Regions from separate parts of the Homo sapiens genome. Here all the other regions are reported to be linked to region 3. Evidence: microRNA targets listed by miRTarBase, many of them from high-throughput screens and not tested one by one. Region 3 holds a microRNA gene; each other region holds the end of a gene's coding sequence.

Region 1 (3,247 bases), not on the chromosome of region 3:
CACCATTGCTTCTTGTTCCCTTTTTAAGCTGTCCCCAGATTGTCCCCAGGAGGACAAAATGAGACAATTCCTGTCATCTTTTAATTGTGGGTGTCTATTACACATTTTGTTTTTTTCTCCTTTATTTTTCCTTTGTGTTTGCTTATACCTGACTCAGATCACAAATTCTCTGAAGACAGAGATTTGTTCACAACCCAGCACATCTTTATCACTTAAATAACACATTTGGTAAGATTATTTAAAGACTTGGGAAGGAAAATACTGCCCTTGTTATATGCTTTTAAATTTTAAATTTTTTATTTATTTTTTAATCATAGATACACATTCCAGTTTTCCTGATGGTGAACAAATAGGCCCTGAAGATCTCAGCTTCAATACAGATGAAAATAGTGGAAGGTAATTGCCAAATCAAGAGAACTGACTTGCAAGCTACCTTGACCCTGAATTTTGCTGTAGTTGGTGCTCAAATTTGTCATCAGTCAGATAATCAGATTTGGTCTTATTTCTTCATTATCTCGACCTGAAATAGTAATTTGGAAACTGTTGGAAGGTGGCACAGTTTAGTCTAAGACAGCAGTAGTACATGGGAAAAACAGTATGGGAAGAGTTCTTTGTAATGTAAGGAAATAACAATGTAGTTCTCTATTAATTTAGCAAATTTGTACATTCACAAAAGGCAGTTTGTCTACTACAGCAGAAGGCTGGTTAACTGCCAGAAAATGTACCTCCAGGCCCTGCATGCCGTCAGTAACCCGCCCGGCATTGGTGCTCTACTGTCTTTGGCTAGAGCTTAGTTGTGTTTAAATAATCATCTTTATATTTGGGGTTTTAATTACAGTTCCATTAGTGCCTGTAGATTAGTGAACAGAAAATTGCTTTGGAAGAGATTCTGCCCTGTAGACACTATGTGAATAACTGAAGTAACACTAGACTGAATCTCCTTTTTGGAGTATGTATCTTCTCTCACTTGTTCAAGTACAGGCACACTGTTCAACCGCATGGTATCTTTCTGTTGTGTGACTTCTACAAATGTAATTTTAAATGAAATTAAGTTAACATGGATTCATTACGTTCCTGGCCCTGTAGACACGTGTAAGATTATTTAAAATTCTTTCATTTTTTTCTGCCTCTTACTATACGACTGTAGTGCAACAAATATTTTAAAGCCCCCTTTTCTTCTTTATTTTCATTAGTTGTACATTGATTTCAGTGTCAACACATTTAAAGATTCATTCATGTTGCACAGTGGCTTACATGAACGTGAAACTGTGATATAAGGTTTTCTTTCATACTCATAATTAGCCCAAAACAGTTGCCAAACTTTGCCATTGTGCTCCTGCATTTGTGTTTGAGCTGCTATATATTTGTGGAAATTACACTGAAAGTTGACTAAGAGACTATTGAAAAAGCATGAATAATTAAATATACATGTGAGAGACATCTCATCTGCTGTATTTTACTTAGTGAATATTGTTCACTCTTCCGTGTCTGATGTCTTGCTGAATGCTGTGACTCATAGTTTACTTTTGTTCAAAATAGTTTGCACTTTTTGTTAATAAAATCAACTTGAGAAAATATGCCTCTGCTGTTTATTAAATTGGGACCAGAAACCCCTTCTTTTCTACTCATTGCCTCATTAGTAGTGTAGAGAAGATCCAAACATTTGATTAGTTTGTGTTTAGTCTAATGGCGAGGAGTGATGCCTAGCATCGATCCCAGTCATTCTAAAATTAGAATAAACCTGAAAGGCCAAAAGATTTCTTCAGAGATGATAGCTTTTAGTTCAGACCTGTTTGCTTTTAGGACAGGAAAGTAGTTTCCCCCTCGTTTCCAAGCCACCTTATATACTAAAGCTGCTCTGAGTTCCTTGGTGATGTCGGGAACACCGCTGTTTTCCCTCTTCCTTGATGTAGTCTGCTATGCTAAATTTTAGGTAGCAGAGAGGGAAGGAAGAGGCACAGGAGAAGAACCAGTTGCTCCACTCTCTGCTTGTCCTACTTTCTTGCTCTTTCTGTACCCTGATAGAGCCCTCAGCATGTTTTTTTATTTTTATTTTTGTAACCTTTCCTTTTTTGCTGAAGAACAGTCTGCTGTTACCTTGCTTCTGTATTTAGTATTTTATCTCAAGTTCATTCCTGGAAAATCTCTCCTGAATAGAGTTTTCTTAGGGCTAGAGATACATTAATGCTTGTGTTGTCTGTGAACGTGTCCTTTCTGGACAACTTTAACTACTTGTGTCATTGATCTTTAAGTAACCTTTGAGGTAGATGAGTTGTGTATCAAACCTGTTTGGCCATGGAGCCTTAGGTTCAGGGAGGTTGTATGATTCTCTTCAGGTTCAAAACCACTGGCAGGGATGGGGTGAACTGCTGGTCTAGTGCCTTTTCCACTTTATCTCACTTGCAGCAGACCCAACATTCTGATACCTAATAATTTAAAACCTAAAGATTATTCTTTTTTTTTAGCTTTTAATTTTGAGATAATTTCAGGTTTGCAAAAGAGTTGAAAAAATTGTGCAAGAGTTTCCGTATACCCTCTGCCCAGCTTCTCCTTTTGTTAATGCCTTACATAATCACAGAACAGTGATCAAAACTAAGAAGTTAATCCTGGTTGCAATATTGTTTACCAAACTACAGAATTTGTTCAGATCGCACCAGTTATTTCACAAATGTTCTTTTTCTGTTCTAGGATCCGGTCTAGGATCCCACATTGTATTTTGTTACCATGTTTCCTCAGGATCCTTCAGTATATGACAGCTCTTCCGCCTTTCCTTGCTTTCATGACCTTGATATTTTTGAAGAGGATGTGTTATTTTATTAAATGTTCTTCTTATTTGGGTTTGACAGATGCTTTCCTATATTAAATTGAGGTTATGCATTATTGGGAAGGCCCTTAGTGCATCACATCAGGGGGGATATGATGTTGATATATAAATATACATATATATACATACATACACACACACACACACACACACACACACATATATATATACTTTTTTTTTTTTTTTGATGGAGTCTCACTCTGTTGCTCAGGCTAGAATGCAGTGGCACCAGCTTGGCTCACTGCAGCCTCTGCTTCCCAGGCTCAAGTGATCCTCCCACCTAAGCCTCCTGAGTAGGTGTCCACCAACACACCTGGCTAATTTTTCTATTTTTTGTGGAGATGGGGTTTCACTCCAGGCTGGCCTCCAACTCCTGAGCTCAAAGTGATCCCCCTGCCTCAGCCTCCCAAAGTGGTAGGTTGA
Region 2 (3,247 bases), not on the chromosome of region 3:
GTGGGACCCTGAGCAGGAATGTGGAGAAATGGGCAGGTAAATGCATCACGTTGGCCAGGAGATTTGCAAGGACTTACAGCTGAATGATGATAATGGGGAGTGACTGTGAGGCCCTGGGAGTCTCTGAGTGTAAAGGAAGATAGGTGTGGGGCCCCCAGGGAGTATGTGGGAGCCATTGCTGTGTAGGTGGAGGTAGTTGGGGAATAATCTGGTGAGCTCTGTGAATTTCTAGGGTTCTCCTGAATGCTGAGGGGTGACTCTTGCAGAAAACTGAGGATGCTTGGAGAATAGCTGGGAGACACAGATGAGGCCCTAAGGAATGGTGGTATAGAGGTGACAGAGATAAGGGAGGAGCACAGTGAGGTCTATGAGTTTCTGGGTGACTCCTGTGTGTTCAGGGCTGACCCAAGGAGAAATCTGGGGATGGTTGGAGAGGAGCTGGGAGACACAGGAGAGTCCCTGAGGGTTGCAGGTGAAGAGATGGGAGACGTGATAGAAGAGGGCCCTGAGATTTTTGTCTATAGGTGATACTTGGGTTTGGGAAGCTGAATGTTGCAGTAAGCTGGGGATTGAGAGAATCTGGGAGACACAGGAGAGTACCTGAGGGCCTGGAGTAAAGAGTTGGGAGACATGGGGCCAGAGCCCTGTGAGGTCCCTGAGTTTCTGCTTGTTACATGGGTGTCAGGGCCTGACTGTTACAGAAATCTAGGAATGATTGGAGAGTAATTGGGAGACATGAGACTCCCTGAGGGCTGGTGGTGAAGAGATGGGAGACATAGGGGAGGATCCCGTGAGGTCTATGAGTGTCTCTGTAATTCCTGGGTGTGGCAGGCAGACTGTCACTGAATATGAAGAATGTTCATGGCTTATATATTTTTTATTTTTACTTTATTTTCTAGGTCTCATCATAGCTCATATATAACACTCAAAACATCATTAAACCATCTAATCTAATATTCGACCATATCATTTCTTTCTTTACACGACTTGTGAGATAAGTAAGATATCAGTTAAAATTTTCATTTCAGCATCTGTTTTTCTCATATCCCCTTTGTGCTTCTTAAAGATGGTTAAAATAGGACAGACAGACTTGGAACTTTGTTCAACTGTCTTAGGAAAAGACCATTGCAGGGGCACAGTCTTTCAACCCCACTGGCCATGTAAGACTAGGCCTGGAGCCTGGAACACATCCTTCCCAAGAGATACTGAACCTCTTTCAGACTCATTGAGGGTTCTTCAAAGTGTGGGTCAGTGGTCCCCAAGGGATGCCCGCAGCTTTCAGTATTTCACACTCCATGAAAACATCAGCAACTGTTTTCCCAGACCTGACACTGCCAGGTGTGCAACAATCTCTGGATTAATCCTCATAGAGATGGCTCCACTTAGGGTCATCTCATAGGGATAGAATTTTGCTAAGGATAACCCCATCAGTTACCCTTTAAGTTTTCTTTCCTATCCCAAGGGTATTAACCTCTATTATCTGGTCTCTCAGTTCAACTTTCAGCTTATTACCTTTCTGGGATCAGAGGCTTCAATATATGGTCATCCACAGGATTCAAATTCATGATTCAAGGGAAAGGTCAGAAAGACATGTTAATCAAATCTTAAATATCAAAGAGTAACTAAAACTTTGCCTCATGAAAGCATTTTTGCAAGCATAATTTAGACGGTCAGCACTGAGCCAGGGAAGCACCCTTCTATTCAGAGGACTCTCACATCAGGGAACATATCCCAGAGGAAAGAGACAATGCTACATGAGGGGAAGAACTAAAACATGAAAATAGAGTTCCTTAATATTGCTTTGCATATATGAAAATAAGCCCACTTGCCCTCTATACTTCCCACGCATTCTCAGTTCTTCATATGAAACCATTTCTGGCCAAAATTTCTAGTTACCTATTTCCAGGAATCCATTTTATTTTCAATGAGGAATGTTCCTAGGAATCTATGTCCTAAGTAGTAATCTGCTCATGCTATTCCAAACATAAACCTCATTATCCTGAGGGATCTTTGCTATTTGGTTGCTTAGTCTTTCCTAAATAGTCAAAGAAGGAAATCTTTGTATTTCATTTTTGGCTTTGAATAATTTTTACTCATTATATCATTTATCATAGCATAACAGCGTACATTCCAAAAAGGAAGGCCCAACATAAACTGAGAAATTGAATAGATACATCCATAATCCCTTTCTATTCTAATCCATACACAAATATTTTATCATAATGGTTTTAGAAGTGAATATTATTTCTATATTCTTTTCCCACACTTTTCACTATATATCATAGACACTTTCCTAAAATTTATAAAATCTTCACATGTAACAACAGCAAGTGCTGTAAGGAACAGATTACAAGCTATCTAATTGGAAGATCATGTAGTAAAATGATGCACTAAAATATGGTTTTCCAGCCTAAGTTCTAAACACTACAGCAACCTTTAAATTTTCTCAATAAGCCCACTAGTGTTAGCATTCCATTTACTCTTTATGGAAAAAGAGGTCTAACACTGGCAGTTGGCTTTGGCATATGATTTTCTCTGATTCAGGTCTGAGTGCTTTCTGCAAGGAAAAGTGCCAGTATTTATTATTTTCATAGGAATATGTCATAAGAATCAAGTTTAACATTGTATATGGAATTGCCAGGTTGAAAAGTCGTTCATAGACTTTCCCCCTTTCTTTTCCAGAACAAATTTGAGACACACAATTAACAGAGGGCTGGAAGTTTTCCCACATATATTGTTTTTATAGTAGTTCTTCCAACTACATGTACTACCTTAAAATAAATTTTTTAAAAGAATGAAATAAAAAGGAAGAAATCCCAGCTGATTTACAAACTAGTTACATTCATAGAGTTTCTCTTCAGTATGAGTTGCCTGATGCCTAATAAGTTTATAGCTATTAATGAAAGCTTTTCCACACTGAATACATGTAAAGGGTTTCTCTCCAGTATGAGTTCTTTGATGCACAATAAGTCGAGCACTCAAGCTAAATGTTTTTCCACACTGATTACATTCAAATGGTTTCTCTCCAGTATGAGTTCTCTGATGTTGAGTAAGGCATGAACTCTGTCTGAAGGACTTCCCACATTGACTGCATTCATAGGGCTTTTCTCCAGTATGAGTTCTCTGATGTACAACAAGAACATAACTCTGGCTGAAGGATTTCCCACACTGATTACATTCATACGGTTTTTCCCCAGTGTGAATTCTCTGATGCATAACAAGGTGAGAACTGCGGTTAAAAGATTTT
Region 3 (3,247 bases):
TCCCAGCACCTTGGAAGGATGAAGCAAATGGATCACTTGAGGCCAGGATTTCGAGACCAGCCTGGCCAACATGGCGAAACCCTGTCTCTACTACAAATACAAAAAAATTAGCTGGGCCTAGTGGCGTGCGGCCATGATCCCAGCTACTTAGGAGGCTGAGGCACAAGAATTGTTTGAACCCGAGAGGCGGACGTTGCAGTGAGCTGAGATAGCACCACTGTACTCCAGCCTGGGCAACAAAGCAAGACTCTGTCTCAAAAAGGAAAAAGAAAAAGAAAAGAAAAGAATTTTAGAACTGAAGGGGGCCAGAGGGGTTCCTTGGTACTGTGAGAGATCCCTCACTTTGTGGATAAGGAATCCCAAGTATAAACAGTATGTGATCATCCAGGATTAAATTAAGTGGCTGAGAAGAATGAATCCAGGTCTTCTAGGACCGACCTTTCACTATACCAGACAAAAGAGCACGAAAGTGTGTTGATCAGAGCAGTAGTTTTAATTGTAGTATTTTTGATACATTTGTGAAACATTTTATAGTAATAAAAATTTTTACTTAGGAGCAAAAGAAGTATGTTATCAATCCCAAGGTAACTCTTTTTAAATGTGGACATATAAAATTCCAATTATATGTAGAAGGGCCTCTGCTTAAATCTAAGTTGTAAGAAGTTATACTATTAATAAGAGAACAGATATAAAAATAATAAAATCCTGCCATTTTCGGCAACATGGATGAGCATGGGGGACATTATGTTAAAAATAAGCCAGGCACCGAAAGACAAGTATTGCATGTTCTCACTCACGTGGAAGCTAAAAAATTTGATCTCATGGAGGTAGAGAGTATAATGACGGCTACCTGAGGCTGGGAAGGGTGTGTGTGTGTGTGTGTGTGTGTGTGTGTGTGTGTGTGTGTGTGTGTGTGTGTGTGTGGAGGGCTGGGATGTGGGATAAAGAGGGGTTGGCTAATGGCTATAAACATACAGTTAGCTGGAAGGAATAAGTTCTAATGGTCAATAGGACAGCAGGTGACCATAGTTAACAACAATGTATTGTGTATTTCAAAAGGGCTAGAAAAGAATATTTGGGATGTTCCCAACACAAAGAAATGATAAATGTTTGAGGTGGTGCATATCCTAAATACCCTGCTTTGATCATTACCCATTATATGCATGTATCCATATATCACATGTATCCCATAAATAGGTACTATTATCATATATTAATTTTTAAAAGCCACCTTAGTATGGCCTAGAAGTAGAGGATCAGTGTTGAGGGTATGGGCAAAATTTACCATTGTACCATGCCTGTCACTTAGATCACCCTCCAGCCTGGCCCCTGAAACGCGTACCTGAATGCTAGGGAGATACACTGAAAGAGCATTCCATTAAAATGCCTGTCAAACTGAAGGATGGCAAATTTCTGTACTTGAGGGTTTGTGGACACCCATAGGCAGATTACCAGCCAGTGGCTTCTGCAGCGCCAGGAAACCATGCCTGGGCACAGACCAGCAAATGTCATCAGCAATGGCCATTCCTTAGAATAGGCACAGCAGGGGGACCAGCTTCACAGGACCAGGGGCCCCTTTGCAGCAGAGTCTTCACCTCAGCAAGCAGAGCTCACAGAAAATGAGGGGTGCTGCATGGTATCCGAGAGTGCCAAGTTCATAAATACACATGAGGTTCACTTTGGGAATCCCATACAGAGCTGAAAGAGTGATGAGCATGATATTGAGCATTTAGGGAGCTTTGGTTTCCTCTTCTAGCAATTGTGGATAATAATACTTGGCTTGTAAAGTTATTGTGGGTAACAAATGTGCTAAAGGACATAAAAGGCATATCACACATGAGCTCCACCGGTTGGAGGTCACAGTTGTTGGAGGCCACCTTCATCCCTTGTGTGGCATAGAGAAGCTTCAGAAGCTCTTTTTTCTGTATAGGCCTCTCATCATGCCAGGTGTGTGGTATTCAGCCTTATCTTTAAAATATGGTACCCTCTTCATTGTATTTCATCCTGCCGTCTTACTACAAAAGAGGAGGAGTCCTAAAGGAAGTTAGTAAATACAAAGAAGTTCTTAAGGTCAACCTAAGATAAAGAAATGCTTGCTTGTAAGTGCTGGGTGATTGAATCTATAATTTGCGTCAAGAGAAGTGAAGAAAAATGTTAGGGTGGTGCAAAAGTGATCGTGGTTTTTGCAATTTTTTAATGACAAAAACCACAATTACTTTTGCACCAACCTAACCTTGTTTTAGGCATGTATCTATTTAAAGACACTTTATTTTACCTATAACGTTGATGGGTTTACATTGAACTCAGGGCCAATAGCACTGTAACTCGCACCCAAACAAAGCTTGTCTCACGTGGATTTTCTGCACAGGACACAGCACAGCATCTTTGTGCTTAGGATACCAGGTAGCACACTGACATTATTCTCGGGAGGCTGTTTTAAACAGCAAAATTACCAACTAAAAGCACAAAAATGAGAAAATCTGTGGCACCAAACAAACTGCAAATAGGACACTTGTTTTCTCTCTCGTTTTTTTTTTTTTTTTTTTTTTTTTTTGAGATGGAGTCTCGCTCTGTAGCCCAGGCGTGGCGCCATCTTGGCTCACAGCAAGCTCTGCCTCCCAGGTTCACGCCATTCTCCTGCCTCAGCCTCCCGAGTAGCTGGGACTACAGGCGTCCACCACCACGCCCAGCTAATTTTTTTTTTTTTTTGTATTTTTAGTAGAGATGGGGTTTCACCGTGTTAGCCAGGATGGTCTCAATCTCCTGACCTCTTGATCCGCCCTTCTTGGCCTCCCAAAGTGCTGGGATTACAGGCGTGAGCCACCGCACCCGGACACTTGTTTACTCTATGAGCAGAAACAAGAAACAGAACATCCTCGTGTGCATGCCCATCAGGCATCTCCAATTGCAATCCACATTTGTGGACGTAGAATCCACAAATAATAAGGAGCCACTGAATTTTTGTATATTTAGTATGGGGCTCAGGTTAATCACAGAAATATTTACTATATAGTTAGTGGGCAAAATGCCCAGTACCCCATTATAATAAACCCAAATCTCAGTAACAGTGAAGATGTTTCTCAGAGGGGCATGGCTCCTCTGATGTTTGTCAGATAAGCATGTCTTATTATAGGGGCACTCAGACAACAGAGGCACAGAACAAAACAAAATATTTTTTGTCTGTTAATTTATTTCAAAAATGAAATCTGATAATGGCTTTTAGAAATGTGAAGACCAAAAAGCATCA
Region 4 (3,000 bases), not on the chromosome of region 3:
TTTTTTAACAAGGGAAGTTTAAAGATCTTTTTTGTTTTATTGTTGTAGGTTGCAAGACAACAGACAGTTCAGAGGCAGGGACAACAGATGGGGGTGGCCAAGTGACAATCGATCCAATCAGTGGCATGGACGATCCTGGGGTAACAACTACCCGCAACACAGACAAGAACCTTACTATCCCCAGCAATATGGACATTATGGTTACAACCAGCGGCCTCCTTACGGTTACTACTGATAGAAATGTTGGCAGCTTTTAGTAAAAGCATTTACTCTGTTACCATGAGAAAAGTTTGGGTGTCTTCTGTTGGTCATAGTTTTACATCTGATTTTACAGAATGGATTATTGATTTTTTGGAAGTTGAGACTTTAAAAAAAATAGATCTTACTTGCGAAATGCGATGGTTGCTGGGAATACCTGAAACTGTGGATTATATTGCTTGACTTCTACCTCAGAATCTTCTTTGTTTCATGACTTAATAGTGCTTTAAGTTTGGTATATTATTTGACCTCTAGGAATTCTTTGTTTTACACAGAAATAAAAATTTTAAAATAGAAAATGCTTTTACTTTGTAAGGTAAGAGAGTATCCATATGCTTAGATGTGCTCGTTTCTAAAATTCTAGAGGTTGATATAATCAGCTCATGAATGCACAGCTATGCTTTTTGTGATAGATTGTACATAACATCAGCAGTTGAAAGGTAAAACAATTGCTTTTTTTTTTTTTTGCATTTGTTAAGTGACTATGGTACTTTGTGATTCCTTAATCTATAGATGAGTCAGCTCCACACTTGAGTCTCTTTTTAGAGGGAAATCAGTAATAAAGCTGTAAAATAAGGAAGGAATCATTGTCAGTTTGTGTCTTGATCTGGTGGTGGTTGGGATAAGGGTACACATCATTTTATACAAACACTAAAGCTTTTTGCTAACAACATAGCAGGTCAAAATTCACACATAAGAAAGTTTAACTCTGTACTGTTCACACTTTTTAATCCTGTAAATAATGCTGCATTTTGATGGTTCTTACTTTTTTGGTATTTAATGTGGGCTGATTTTACAATGTTATATTCACTTCCAGATGCATACCTCTGCTGCTTTCTCTCCTATAAATAGTGATGCTATAAACTTCCTTTCACAGAGATCATTCTATTTCAAATCACTTTAATGATTATTACAATGATTTCATTCAAATAAAAATTTTAAAATATTTAAGCATCTTCACTCCCAAGTTCTGGCAGTTAGCCCATTTATTAATATGGTGAAATGAGATTTTTGGGTTTTTTTATGCTGTCCTTCATATCTGTTGAAAAGGGCTTATTTGGTTTAACAGTAACATTAAGAGTGCAAATTTCAACATAGGTCAAAGGAATTAACAGGCACCTTCCTGACTTTATTAGAGTGACAAAAAAATATATATATTTAAAAAGGCGTCTTCCAGCCAGGCATGGTGGCTCATGCCTGTAGTCCCAGCACTTTGGGAGGCTGTGGGCGGATCACTTGGGGTCAGGAGTTCGAGACCAGCCTGACCAACATGATGAGACCCCGTCTCTACTAAAAATACAAAAATTAGCCGGGTGTGGTGGCACATGCCTGTAATCCCAGCTACTCGGGAGGCTGAGGCAGGACAATTGTTTGAAGCCCAGAGGCGGAAGTTGCAGTGAGCCAAGATCGTGCCACTGCACTCCAGCCTGGGCAACAGAGCAAGACTTCATCTCATAAAAAAAACGGGGGCATCTTCGTAAACCTATTTTTAATGCCTTCTCTCTTAGCACCCCACTCTAGGCCCTCGAGGTTGACTTCTCCAGGTACTTCATGCTCTCCATCTACCTCTCCCTTTTATTCTCCCTTCCTGAAGAGCCATCCTCTCGGGTAACTGTTTTATTGGAAATGACCTAATAAGTCGGGCAGTCACACTAAGATGCAAATACAATTTTAATAGTAAGGGTTTTCCCTGTAACCTCCCTAATTACATCAGTAGGCAAGAAGCCAGTGCTGTTATATAAAGATAGGATTTGATACTACAGATATTTAGTCTAGATAGTAATGTCCTGACTACACCCCAGAATCTTCTCTGAAAGCAGAAGTGTTATCAAAAATATCACCTGGTTGGGTATGGTGGCTCACACCTGTTATCCCAGCACTCTGGGAGGCCGAGGCGGGAAGATCACTTGAAGCCAGGAGTTCGAGGCCAGCCTGGGCAATGTAGCAAGATCCTGTCTCTACAGAAAATTTTAAAATTAGCTGGGTGTGGTGGTGCACGCCTGTAGTCCTAGCTACTCAGGAGGCTGAGGCAGGAGGCTCCCTTGAGTCCGGGAAGAGTTCAAGACTACAGTGAGCTAGGATCATGGCACTGTACTCCAGTTTGGGCTAGATAGATGCTGTCTCTTAAAAGTAATGATTTATAGGCTGGGCACGGTGGCTCACAGTTGTAATCGCAGCACTTTGGGGGGCTGAGATGGGCAGATCACCCCAGGTGAGGAGTTCGAGACCAGCCTGGCCAATATGGTGAAATCCTGTCTCTATTAAAAATACGAAAATTAGCCAGGCATGGTGGCGGATGCCTGTAATCCCAGTTACTCGGGAGACTGAGTTAAGAGAATCACTTGAACCTGGGAGGTGGAGGTGGCAGTGACCTGAGACCATGCCATTGCACTCCAGCCTGGGCAACAAGAGCGAAACTCTCTCAAAGAAAAAAAAAAAGATTTATAAAATCATCTCCTGAGAAAGCACAGGCACTGACCAGTAGTTGGGACAGTATAGCTGACTGTAGCTTTAGGTCAGGATTCTGTGCTGTGCCAGCTGTTGACACAAAGGGAGATGTATGGGTCCAAGGCCAGCGCTGGAGGAGTACTTCTCAGGAAGCTCAGAAGAGAGGTGGTTTTCCAACAGTATTTAAATGTTTTAACACCCAACACAGCTAGGCTGCTTGTGTCCTGAGTATCAGCCGTGCTTGAAAAAATGGGAGGAAACCTTTTAACATGAGTAAATTCTGCATGCTGCATG

What was found. Region 3 holds the annotated microRNA hsa-miR-548t-5p (CAAAAGUGAUCGUGGUUUUUG, at 2,166-2,186, shown strand). A microRNA usually pairs through its seed, bases 2 to 8, with sites in the 3' UTR of a target mRNA and lowers its output. Matches are read on the target gene's strand: a 7mer-m8 pairs with bases 2 to 8, a 7mer-A1 pairs with bases 2 to 7 and ends in A, and an 8mer does both.
Region 1: miRTarBase lists TRIM37 as a target of hsa-miR-548t-5p. Seed matches in the 3' UTR shown: 7mer-m8 at 1,544-1,550.
Region 2: the mRNA of ZNF180 is a reported target of hsa-miR-548t-5p. Seed matches in the 3' UTR shown: 7mer-m8 at 2,566-2,572.
Region 4: miRTarBase lists RAMAC as a target of hsa-miR-548t-5p. Seed matches in the 3' UTR shown: 7mer-m8 at 980-986.

Annotation. Positions count from the first base shown.
Region 1 is chr17:58,996,530-58,999,776 of GRCh38, reverse strand. TRIM37 (tripartite motif containing 37) reads left to right here. Exons shown (of 24, transcript NM_015294.6): 24 at 318-1,575. The coding sequence ends at 400. Among named protein-coding and RNA genes, the nearest start is that of TRIM37, 110 kb to the left of the region's middle.
Region 2 is chr19:44,473,570-44,476,816 of GRCh38, forward strand. It overlaps ZNF180 (zinc finger protein 180), which reads right to left. Exons shown (of 5, transcript NM_001278509.3): 5 at 874-3,247. The coding sequence ends at 2,833. Among named protein-coding and RNA genes, the nearest start is that of ZNF180, 25 kb to the right of the region's middle.
Region 3 is chr4:173,266,004-173,269,250 of GRCh38, forward strand. MIR548T (microRNA 548t) reads left to right here and starts at 2,157; the gene lies at 2,157-2,230. All of the region lies in intron 2 of GALNT7 (polypeptide N-acetylgalactosaminyltransferase 7), which reads left to right. LOC124900812 (a long non-coding RNA gene) reads right to left here. Exons shown (of 3, transcript XR_007058367.1): 2 at 1-3,247.
Region 4 is chr15:82,989,833-82,992,832 of GRCh38, forward strand. RAMAC (RNA guanine-7 methyltransferase activating subunit) reads left to right here. Exons shown (of 4, transcript NM_031452.4): 4 at 49-1,225. The coding sequence ends at 235. It also overlaps a transcript of C15orf40 not described here. Among named protein-coding and RNA genes, the nearest start is that of RAMAC, 5.1 kb to the left of the region's middle.